3 linked regions of the Homo sapiens genome follow. The protein of the gene in region 1 purifies or fractionates together with the protein of each later gene. This does not show direct contact. Each region holds a gene or a part of one and is shown on either strand. Other genes may lie near its edges. The genes, in order: SIAE, NPTX1 and CNTNAP3.

Region 1 (3,749 bases):
CTAACCACTAAAAGTCAGGTTTCTTTGGAATCAGCTGATTCATTATTTGGTCCCCTAGAGCTTTTATTCATTTATTCAATAAATCAATCAAGTTCCTCCTATAATCCAGACACTGTGTGTTGGACTCTGTTTCCTATGTGGAATCCCCTCACATCCTACAGTTAGTGTGTGGTGTTCCCTGGGGCTGATCACAGGTATCTCAGTATTCCTCCTGTGAGGCCAGAGGAATGCTGGAATTCCATTTCCTGCTGCCACTGAAGTTAACCGTAGCCTTATGACTTGGTTTGGCCAGTGCAATGTGAGCAGAAATGACTTGTGTGGAAGCACTGAATTGCCAGTGTGACACTTTAAGATGACTATGGAAGCATAGGTCAACTTGGAGCCTCTATTGCTCTGGGTCTATGAATGATTACAGTGAGCAAAGTCTCTGTTGACCTTCTTTTAACAGAGAGAGTGACCAAGAAATAAATTGTTGGTGCATCAGAGAACTGAGATGTTGAGGGTGTTTGCTGTTGTTACTGCAGCACACCCCAGCATACGTGACTCTTAAGTGCCAATCCTCAGTCTAATTGCCCCTCACCGGTGAACATCAGAGTGAAAGACTACAAAGAACATACACTGTTCATGCAAAGCCCAAGAAGCAATCATACCTGCCAAAAGGCGAGTCTCTATCACAGAGATCCATAGCTACAGCCATGAAAGTATTGGGCATCTTTGGGTTGGGGACATAGCCGAAGTCTGCTGTTTGATGCCAACGGATCTGGGGAAATCCATCGTCTGAGCTCTTCTTAGACAAATCTGAAGATAACTAGAAAGCAGAGACATTGCTAATTTTATTGTATCAGAATCCCACACTGGAGTCTTTTTCACTGGCAGACTCTGCTTCTGCTTCTCTCATTGCATTTAAATGCTCATTCAACACGTATTTACTGAGCTTCTTACTGTTGTGGCAGTGTCTCTCCAAAGACAGCTGCAACAGTCCCTCTCATCCCATGTGCCCTCTTGCAGTGCAACTTTGCCACACCTCTCATCAAGCAGCGGGGTCTGTTTCTCTTCCCTTTGAATCTAGGATTTGCTTTGACCCATAGAATGCAGGAGAATTGATGTTGTACAGCTCCTGAGTCTTGGCCTTATGAGGCCTTGCCTTCTGAATTCATTCTCTTGAAACCCTGAGCTGGTCATGTAAACACCATCCAGTTACCCTGCTGGAGAGATTATGGAGTGAGAGGGGCCTTGGAAATTGAAAGATCATAGAAAGAGAGGCTCTAGTGTTCCAGCAATCACAGATAAGGGCCAGTCATATGGATTTCTAGATCCTCCAGTTAAAATTGCAGCCACATAAGCAAGCCTAGCTGGTATCATGTAGGGCAGAAATGAGCCATCCCAGGTGAGCCCTACCTGGCCAACCCAATGAATCATGAGCAAAAAATATGGCTGATGGTTTAAGCCCCTAAGTTTTGGGGTAGCTTGTTACAAAGCAATAGATAACTGATACATCTGTATACAACACAGGGCTAGGCACTGTAGGCAAGCAGAGAAGAATCTGCCCTTGAGCATGTGCTAAATTGCATCAGTGACCCCAATTCTTCACTCCCTCCTATATCCACACCCTCTTGCCATGTGGATTTGCAGTTCCTCCCGTTAACAGGACAAGTATGTTTCCCAAACCCTTGATTCTAAGCTCAGCCATGTGGTTTGCTTTGACCAATCAACAGAAGCAGAAAGTATGGTGTGTCACTTCCTAGCCTAAGTGACTCTGCATGGCTCCACTTGCTCATTTGCACTGCTGCTATCGCCATAAGAAGGACGTGCCTGGGCTAGCCTGCTGCTCCCTGGAGAAGGACAAGAGCGCCCCTGCTGACCCACAGAGGTCTGAAAGAGCCCAAAGATCTGCAGCTTAGCCAAATCACCCAAACCCCAGCTCCCCAGACAAGAGCTACCTATATAAGAAAGGCTATTTTAGGCCGGGGGTTTTGAGGTAGTTTGTTACACAGCAGTAGCTAACTGGTACAAGTACTTTACAGCTTTGTTGAGGAGGACAGACCTACACATAAGAAATAAACATAAGGATTGAATGGGTTTATGTTTCATAAACATATAAAATAGTATGGATTAAATGTTAAATGAGTGCCACAGACAGCAAGTACTAAACATTTAGAACAGGCAAAGATTATTATTATAGGAAAACGTGGTCTCAGAATTCATTAAAACAAATGGGCATCAAAAATATGAGAAGTCACTACAGGCAGTACTGCTCACACTTCACATGTTAGAAGCATGTAAGATGCAAAGGTGGGGAGGAGAATGGTCGTTCTGAGAGAGGGGCAATCCAGGTGGACTGGAGGATTTGTGAAGGAAAGGCAAAGTTGGAAAGATAGCAAGGCAAGTGTTTGTATAGTTGATTCTTTTGTATTAAACAATAAAGAACCTCTGTAGAGGTGATAGCTGCACGACATCGTGAATGTGCTAACGTGCTACTGAACTCAATTGCATGTTATATGACTTTCACCTCAATTAAGAAATTACAGAGCCACTGAAATTACTGACATGATCAAAGGACCATTTCAAAAGATTGTTCTAGTGATCATACAAATGGCTCTGGCAAAAAACAAAATAAGGCCGGGCATGGTGGCTCACGCTTATAATCCCAGCATTTTGGGAGGCCGAGGTGGGTGGATCACCTGAGGTCAGGAGTTCAAGACCAGCCTGGCCAAAATGATGAAACCCCTTCTCTACTAACAATACAAAAAATTAGCCGGGAGTGGTTGCAGATGCCTGTAATCCCAGCTACTCGGGAGGCTGAGGCAGGAGAATCACTTGAACCCAGGAGGCGGAGGTTGCAGTGAGCCAAGATTGTGCCACTGCACTCCAGCCTGGGCAACCGGGCAAGACTCCATCTCAAAAAAAAAAAAAAAAAAAAAAGAAACCAAAATAAAGGACTTAACGCAGAGAGACAGATTAGTTAAGCAGCTATTATAATATTCTAGACACAAAAACAAAGATCTAATCTACAGAGATAGTAGTAGAACGGGATGATGAGAAATAATAAAAACTGACAAAACCAGGCAACCAACTGGATATGGAGAACAAGAGGAAGGGTAAAATCCATCATTCGGAAGCCACGGCATCTGAATTAACTGTGTGGCATCTCAGGCATCCAAGTAGCACCAGAATATTTGGGGAATAATATTGTTCCAGAAAGAGCCTGTGAAGGATCCACAGCTCATGTATTATCAGTCAGCTCATGTATTTATTCATGCTTTTAACAAATATTTACTGAGCACCTACTCTGTGTCATGCACTAATACTGGCCTAGGAGATAGAGCAGTGAACAAAACACAAGAATCCCTTCCCATTCTTATACCCTAGTGGAAAGAGAGAATGAATAACAAGATAGATCTGTAAACTACATATCCTATGAGAAAGTGACAAGTGCACTGGAGAAAAATATAATAGGGAAGGAGGAGAGAGTGTCAGAGTTGAATGAAGACTAGAAGGAGATGCGCAAAGAAGCTATGAGGATATCTGGGTATGTTAGGCGGATGACCCACAGGGAGCCGCATCCTTATACAATACTCTCCTCTTTGTGGTAGGGGGAACTCGTAATTTGATTCTAACCAATAGGCTATGGCAAAGGTAATGGGATATCACTCCTGTGATTATGTTGTATATGGCAAAAGTGAAGGGATTTTGCAGATGTTACAAGTAACGTCCCCAGTCAGCTGACTTCACATTGATCAAAAGGGAGA
Region 2 (3,749 bases), on another chromosome or scaffold:
AGAGACAGGCTTTCTTAAGCAGGGAGGGTTTGAGCCAGCGACAGCCACTGTGCAAAGTTACTGAGGATTAAACAAATCAGACTTGAAAAATCCAGCGAGTGTGTGAGTGTGTCTGGATGGGGGAGGGGGCACTATGCAATCCCCTTTCCCAGAGACAGCCCCAGCCCAAGGCACCCAGCCCTGATAGAAACACCGACTAGAAGCCCAGAACCTGGGAAGGGGTGCGGGGAATGAGAAAGCGGTGCAGGGGTTGGGGGTAGCGGAGCGGCTTGAGGCTTGCACAGTGCAGAGCTGGGCTGTTAGGGATCGGGACCGAGGCAGGGTCGGGCAAGCAGGTGCAGGCAGGCAGCACGGCTCCCCCTGGCCCCAGTACCTTTCTCGAGCTCGCTGATCCGCTGGTGCAGGGAGGTCAGGGCGGTCTCGATCTTGACCCTCTCCTCGGTGTCGTTCCTGGGGCCCCCCTTGCCCTCCTCCAGGGTGTTCACCCGGGACAGCACCTGCCTCTCCAGCTCATCGATCTTGCTCTGCAGCAGATCCTTGAGGCTGTTGGTCTGGCTGGAGGAATTGAGGCGGCTGTACTGCTGCGGGGTGCAAGGGCGGGGGAAACCACACCGTTAGGCGAGGCGCGGGGACCGTGCTGGAAGGCCCGCGGCGCGGTCCCCTCTGGGCGACTGCGGGGGCGGCCTGGCAGGGAGCTGGGGCGAGTGGCCGCCGCGGGGCCTCGCAGGCGCGGGGAGGCACCGGCCGGGCACCCGCGCGGCTGAGGCGAGGGCGGGGGATGCCTGGCCGGGTAGGGAACGGGGTGGGGGAGGGCAGAGGGGCGAGCGAGCCGGAGGGGGAACCGGAGCCGAGGGCGCGCGCGGACCTCGAGGTTCTCCAGGCGGGTTTTGAGCGATTGCAAAGTTTGCCCGAGTTGGCTGAGCGTCTCGGCGGCCGGTGTCCGGGACAGGTCGCCCATGGTGTTCTTGCCCGAGCCGGGCTGCTTGCGGCCGCCGCCCGCCCGGGCCTCGCCGGCTCCGGGGTCCAGCGTGCTCTGGCTCTCGCAGCGGCCCAGCTTGGCGGTCAGCTCGCGGATGGTCTCCTTCTGGCTCAGGATGGTCTCCTTCTGCTGCAGCACCGTCTCGCGGAGCTGCAGCACGCTGCTCCGGAGCTCCTCGGCGCCGCCGGCGGCCACGGACGCGGCGCACATGTCGGCGTCCACGGGCACCGAGGTGCAGATGAAGCGCGTCGGCCCGAAATCCTGGGCCCCGGCGCCCAGGAGGCAGAGGGCGAGCAGCGCACAGGTGCGCGCGGCGCGGCCGGCCGGCATGGCTGCGGGCACCGGGCGCTCCGGGCCCGGCTCGGCTCGGCTGGGGCTCGGCTCCGGCTGGGACCCGGCTCGGGCTGTGGCTCCGCGAGCGGCCCGCGCTCTGGGCGCCGCGCTCTTCGGCCGCGCGGTCCACACCGCCGCGCTATCAGGCCCCCACTGCCGCCTGCGCTGCGGAGCCCGCGCCTTTTATGCCGCCGCGGGAGGGGCCTCGAGCCGCCGACGTCAGCGGGGGAGGAATCCCGCTTTAATTGTCCGCGGCCCGGGCCCGCGGCGCGGCGGGGGTCTCACGAGCGCGCCACCGGGGCTGCCTCCGCTCGCGTCCCCCCCGCCCTTCTGGGAGCTGCCGCGGCCCCCTCCTCCCCCGCCCCCGCCTGGGCCGGCGCTGCTGCCCCGAAGGCTCCGAGAGCTCAGGGGGAAGGAAGTCGGGCTCCGGCCCCGGACTCGAGGATGGACCACCTGCGTGGTGTCCCCGAACCTCCGACGGGGCTCCAGGCGGGCGGGAAACCACCGCGTCCGGGAGATAGAATTCGGTTCGGCCCTCCTGGCTGCACTGAACACCCTTGGGCCGGGGTCGTTTGGAGCCGGGCTGGGTGCCCAAGGACCCAGGTCGTCAACACCCGAGTGCCCGGTGGTCAACGGCTCGGAGTGGGGCCTCGCGGCGCCACTAAGTCCAGAGCGGGGGTCACCGGGCCGCCCCGCGTTTCTTAGATGTCCGTGTGCTATTGAGAAGCCGCCGGGCAGCCTGGGTACAGGGACTTCCCACGGGTCGGGGCCCCCGGCGCCTCCCCTCCCCCAGCTCCCGGGCTCTGTGGACCCGGCCCCGTCCCCGGGGGACTGTCAGTCCCCACCCCGTGCGGGCGGGGCGCTGGGGACTTCTCGGAGGCAGACCTAGCTGATCGAGCCTTTCCTGTCCGCGGCGCCGGCCCGATCGCGGGCAGGCGGCGTCGCCGGGGCTGGACGTTCGCAGCGGCGCTTCGGAAGGGGGCCCCGCGGGAGCAGCCGCCCGCGTCTCCAGCAGCTTCCCCTTGCCAGGCGCCGCGCGCGCCCGGTATCCCCGGGTGTCCACCTGTGCGTGGGGGGCTGTTTCCCGTCTGTCCAGCCGCGCCCACTTCTCAGGCCCAAAGGCCAGCAGGAAGGGTCCCGGAGGTGGCTGGGGGCGTCCACCTGAGAAGCTCCGCTCTCGCTCAGACACCCCACCCGGCACCCGCGCACTCGCGCCTTCATCTGGACCGCGGGGCTCGGCTCCCGAGATCGCGGTCCGGGTTCCGGCGCCGGGCTGGGGGCTCAGGACCAGGGCTGGCGCAGCCGCCCCGCCCCGCCCCGCCCCGGGGCTATCAGAGCGGTCAAAGCCTCGGAAATCCCTCCGTCCACGCTCCCGTGGTACAGAGAAGGAAACTGAGGCTCCGAGACTGCGGGGCCGGGCTACAGCCGTGGCCCCCCGACCCCTCCCCGCCGCCCCCGGCTTCTCTGGTCTCTGCGTTCTGCAGCCTTTCCCTGCGCGCAGCCGGGGGCTGGGGGTCCCCAGCCAGCAGGGACCCACGGGCAGTCCCGGGTGCCGGGATCGGGCGTCCGCCCCTCGGGCGGGAGCAGAGGCCGGCTCGATGGAGACCTTTTTGAGAAATGGCGGCCTCTACCCGCCCCCCAGCCCCCGAGCGCCCGCCGTCTGCGTTCAGCATCTCAGCTTTTAAGCCTCCCTGAGCCGGGGCTGCGTTCTCGTTGTCTCCTTCGGCCGCCGCTTCCTGGCGCCAGAGGGACCCCGCGGCCCGCACGGGCCTGTCCTCGGCTCCGCTCGGAGGGTGTGCGGGTTCCCGCTCCGCTGGCCCCGCTTGCCCACCACGGCGCGCCCAAACCCACGCGGCCCGCGGCCCCTTGCGTGCTCTGCCGACCCCGGGCCGCAGGAGGGGTTAGCCTCGCCGGTCCCCACGCGGGGTCTGCGCCGGCAGCGCCACGGGCTGGAACGCGCCTCGGGAGAAATTACCCGCGCGGGGTCGCGGCGTCTTCTGCCCCAACTCCCGTAGGGAGCCGCTAGGCGGGTGCCCTCCTGGCCCCAGCGCTTTGGCCTCGCCGCCCTCCCGCACGCGTCCAGTGGGGAGGCCGCGCCCGTCAGGCCTGGAGCCGGACCGTGCCCAGCCGAGAGCGCGCGGGCGCGGGAGAGGAGCCCTGCCCTGCCCAGGGCAGGCTGTTTAGACGGGGCGGGAACCCTTAGCCTGGCCCCGCGTCTCTATCCCCAGCAGCCGTGGAGCCTTCCTAGCCGCCCAAGGCCAGGGACCCTGCCTGGCTTTTCCTCCAGGGCAGCAGATCTCAGCGGCCTGGCACCTCGGCACAGAGGAGCGTGTCCCCCTTCCGCAGAGGAAGGGAGTGGACGGCGTCAGAAAGGGAGGGGAGCCTGGGGCGGTGTCTGGGGCTAGCGGGACCTCTGGGCACTGTGGGGCCCCAGGAG
Region 3 (3,749 bases), on another chromosome or scaffold:
TAGCTCAAGAATCATAAACCCTATATTTGAACAGCTATATAATATTATATATTTATTTTCCCATTTGATGTTGCATTACTTTTTCTACCAATCTTCTTACAATAAATTCATAAATATCTTAATTATAGCAAATGTGAAGTTCTTAAAGATGAGAATCATCAAACATATTTCTATTACAGAGATATATTCTTCAAAAAGTCATCTAAAATAGAAACCCAACTGGGAGACACCTTAAAAGGTTATCTGCCACAACAGAAGCTTTGCTTAAAATACTGTTCTCTTTGTATTTGTGTTAATAATTGATTTGTCTTTGAAATTAAATTAGGAATCTACTATATCTAGTGGTCTTGAAATCAAAGCCCCCTCCCCATTCCTTATCTTCACTGCTGTGTTCAAAAAGACTAGACTCCAGGGACGTGTCCAAAGCTGGGTTAAATATAGGATGCCTGAGAGACACCCTTCTTTCATAGTTCGAGGGTAAGCATGTAGCTGTATGTGTGTGGAGGGGCGGGTGGAGGAGGTTAGCTGTATCAGGGTAGGCATAATACTATATTTTAAATCCCTCCTTCTGTTATAAATGTAAGCTGAAAATAGTCTCTGCTCCCAGCGGCAGCAATCGTAAACTCGCTTAGTTCTGCCTGTAATTTAATTTAATTTAACATGTGACATTGAGACAATGTTTCTTTTAATTCACATATAACTTCTTCCTCACCCACATTCCAGCCAAATAAACACATACTTATAGAAAAATGTGACTGTTTTCCTGGGCATCCCAACAATTCAACTGTCCCTAAAACACCAGGTTCAATTTAAACTCTATTAGCTTGTCTGAGGGCTAAGATATCTAAAAATCCAAGACAAATTATCATTTGCGTATATGGAGGCAGCTCTGATTGAACAGATATCTAAAACGGTTAGGTAATATTTTAGATCAAATCACTCCATCAAGTCAAAGACTAATTCAACTGTTTGTTCAGTTTCCAAAGGAATCCTTCCATTTTGGTCTAGTGTTCCATAAACATTGACTTTACATGAAAAGGACAGTGAAGAGATCTCTTGAACCGGCCAGAAAGTTGAAGCTCAAGGTTGTAGAAGATTTGAGCTACCAAGTCCAAGCCTTCTAAAAGATTCCCAATATGTATATATATCATTTTCCTAACTCTACATTTGCCTGAGAAACAATGACATTCAATAAACTTTTTTCCATGGGATTTAGTTACAAAATAAGTCAAGGAACTACAAGTTATATATTTCCTGGAAAAATATACTATTATATATATATATTATATATTCAAAACTCCGTAAAGCATATAAAGTATAAGCATATACTGAGTTATAAGGCATAACTCAACATGTTATTTTAACCTAAAATTTTCTTAGGGCCTCAATTGCAAATGCTTTAATTGCCAATGGTTCATAAACACATCTGTGAATTAGAAGCAAGTAATATCCTCTGTTTTTATACTCTCAAAAAATGTGATTATACTTAATCAAAAGTAATTCAAACCACAGCCCAGGCAATACATACTAGACCATGTCTTCTTGGTAATTTAATTCTTAGCAATAATTTTAATTGCTGCCTTATTAAGTAGGTATGCTACTTAAATTACAATCCTGTAGTTATAAGGTTAAAACTATTTTAAAATCTCAAATGTTTTTAGATTTCAATCACTCTTCGTATTATTACAACAAAAATGTTCATTAACTGGAACACATGCAGTATCATTTTTTAGCCCCCACTTTATGATATTTTTTAATTTTTATTACCAGAGTAGTCATTTCATTATAAAATTTTAACCAAGCTAAGCATATACTCCATTTTTTAGAAAACTAGATTTACTGTAGTCCTGTTAAGGCTATCATAGTAAGCAATGAATTTCACACTTGTCTTTTATACAGTACAACACATCAAGCAGATATATGAAATCCTTGACAAAAGACATTTAAAACAAACAATTCCATGCTTTATATGTCAAGTGAAAAGGAATATTTTTTCTACAGTGACAGAGCAGACTTGACATGTGCACAATCATGTACAACCAAGCGTTTGCAAATGCTCTTACAACGTGGAGCAACCGGGCCTAGGGACAAGCAACCTTTCAGCTAAGAGTCTCGTCAAAGGTGCGGAAGCCCATTACAGAAGACCAGATAACAGTCAGTCTGACGGGTTCATTCAGATATTCAAGCTTTAAAAAGTACTTTGAAGACTGATACAGATGTCCTAGGCAATAAACTTCCCGAAAAGAATGGGGAACAATCCCAGTGCCAATCACATCTTTGTCATTCAGAAATCCAGGCTAATTTGATTTAGAGACATACATAAATGAACTGTTATTTCTCATAACTGTTTTTTTTTCAGCCTCTTTATTTTTAATCTACATCTCTTAGGTAAAATGCATCAATTTAACTACATTTACTTATTCTGAGTTTTTCTATTGGTCCATGTTTCCTTTAAACACAATTTTGAATGGTTTTTTAAAGTAACCATTTGATTTTGAAACCAATTTACAGAAAACATGGAAGAACTACGCTAATATGCTGTATCACCCCTGAATACTTCAATGTACATTTCCTACAACAAAGATGTTCTCCTATATAACCATAATATGATCATCCCAGTCATCATGGATAAAGTTCCAATATTTAATCCCCAATCTTGTTCAAGTTGCACCAATTCCCAATCATGTCCTTTATAACATAAGCATTTAATGCAGAGTAGTATTTAGTTGCCTTGTTTTCTTAGCCTCCGTCAATCTGGAATGCCTCCTTCCTCACTCCACTCAACCTCTGACAACTTGCTATAGGTCACCACCAGTGCTGTCTCCTGTCTCTCCAGGTCCCCACCCTTGCTACACTGTGGATGCTTTCCTTACCCTGCTGGTTTCTGAATGCTCTGCCACGGTCCTGGGCCTCCCCACTACCCAGCATGGATGCCTAAGCTGAACTGAATGACCTTGGACTGAATTGTTCAAAAAGAGAAGGGGAGAGGAAGAGGAAGAAGAACGCCAAGTAATTTGATTTTTCTTTTTTCATGATCAAACCAATGTCTTGGAATTGATTATCACTTCCATGGGCTACTTATGCTCCGTACTGTTTGTATAGAGTTTGGTGAAAATGAATAAAGGCAACTGAACTACATTTTTTGGTTTTTTTTTTGAGACAGAGTCTCACTCTGTCACCCAGGCTGGAGTGCAGTGGCACGATCTCAGCTCACTGCCTCCTCACAGGCACCTGCCACCATGCCCTGAAATTTTTTCATATTTTTAGTAGAGACGGGGTTTCACCGTGTTGTCCAGCCTGGTTTCGAACTCCCGACCTCAACTGATCCACCCACCTCAGCCTCCCAAAGTGCTGGGATTACAGGTGTGAGCCACCGCGCCTGGCCTGAACTCCATTTTTTATAGAGTACCATTTGACACTAAAATTAAGAGTCTGTTACTCATCTGCAGAATCTCTCTTTAAATGGTATTACTAAAAGGTCCAAAATGAAACATCTGTAAAAATAATTATTCCTACACTCTGTGAGATCTCTTTCCTGACACATTTCACATCTAAGTGAGTTTCCTAACTAACCCACACACACTCTATAGTAGGCTTACCCTTCTTTCCCCAGGCTGGCTGGCGAACTTGCAAAACATAACCATTTAGGGGAAAAAATTGAGGCAATTAAAATTAAAAGTGTTTTAGGCTAAGTAATGAATAAATTAACCCACTGAAAAGTTACATCAAAGGCTATTACTCAGCATTTT

The links.
Region 2: the proteins of SIAE (region 1) and NPTX1 purify together in Homo sapiens (affinity purification with mass spectrometry; 3 studies listed by BioGRID and IntAct, with this or other methods). This does not show direct contact.
Region 3: the proteins of SIAE (region 1) and CNTNAP3 purify together in Homo sapiens (affinity purification with mass spectrometry; 2 studies listed by BioGRID and IntAct, with this or other methods). This does not show direct contact.

Annotation. Positions count from the first base shown.
Region 1 is NC_000011.10:124,639,060-124,642,808, forward strand, and holds part of SIAE (sialate O-acetylesterase isoform 1 precursor), read right to left. Parts: intron 809-3,749; coding exon 651-808; intron 1-650. UniProt on the Homo sapiens protein: Catalyzes the removal of O-acetyl ester groups from position 9 of the free diacetylated sialate N-acetyl-9-O-acetylneuraminate (Neu5,9Ac2) in the cytosol and of the diacetylated sialate residues of sialylglycoconjugates in the lysosomes.
Region 2 is NC_000017.11:80,475,138-80,478,886, forward strand, and holds the start of NPTX1 (neuronal pentraxin-1 precursor), read right to left. Parts: upstream 1,471-3,749; 5' UTR 1,310-1,470; coding exon 866-1,309; intron 582-865; coding exon 374-581; intron 1-373. UniProt on the Homo sapiens protein: May be involved in mediating uptake of synaptic material during synapse remodeling or in mediating the synaptic clustering of AMPA glutamate receptors at a subset of excitatory synapses.
Region 3 is NC_000009.12:39,281,486-39,285,234, forward strand, and holds part of CNTNAP3 (contactin-associated protein-like 3 isoform 1 precursor), read right to left. Parts: intron 1-3,749.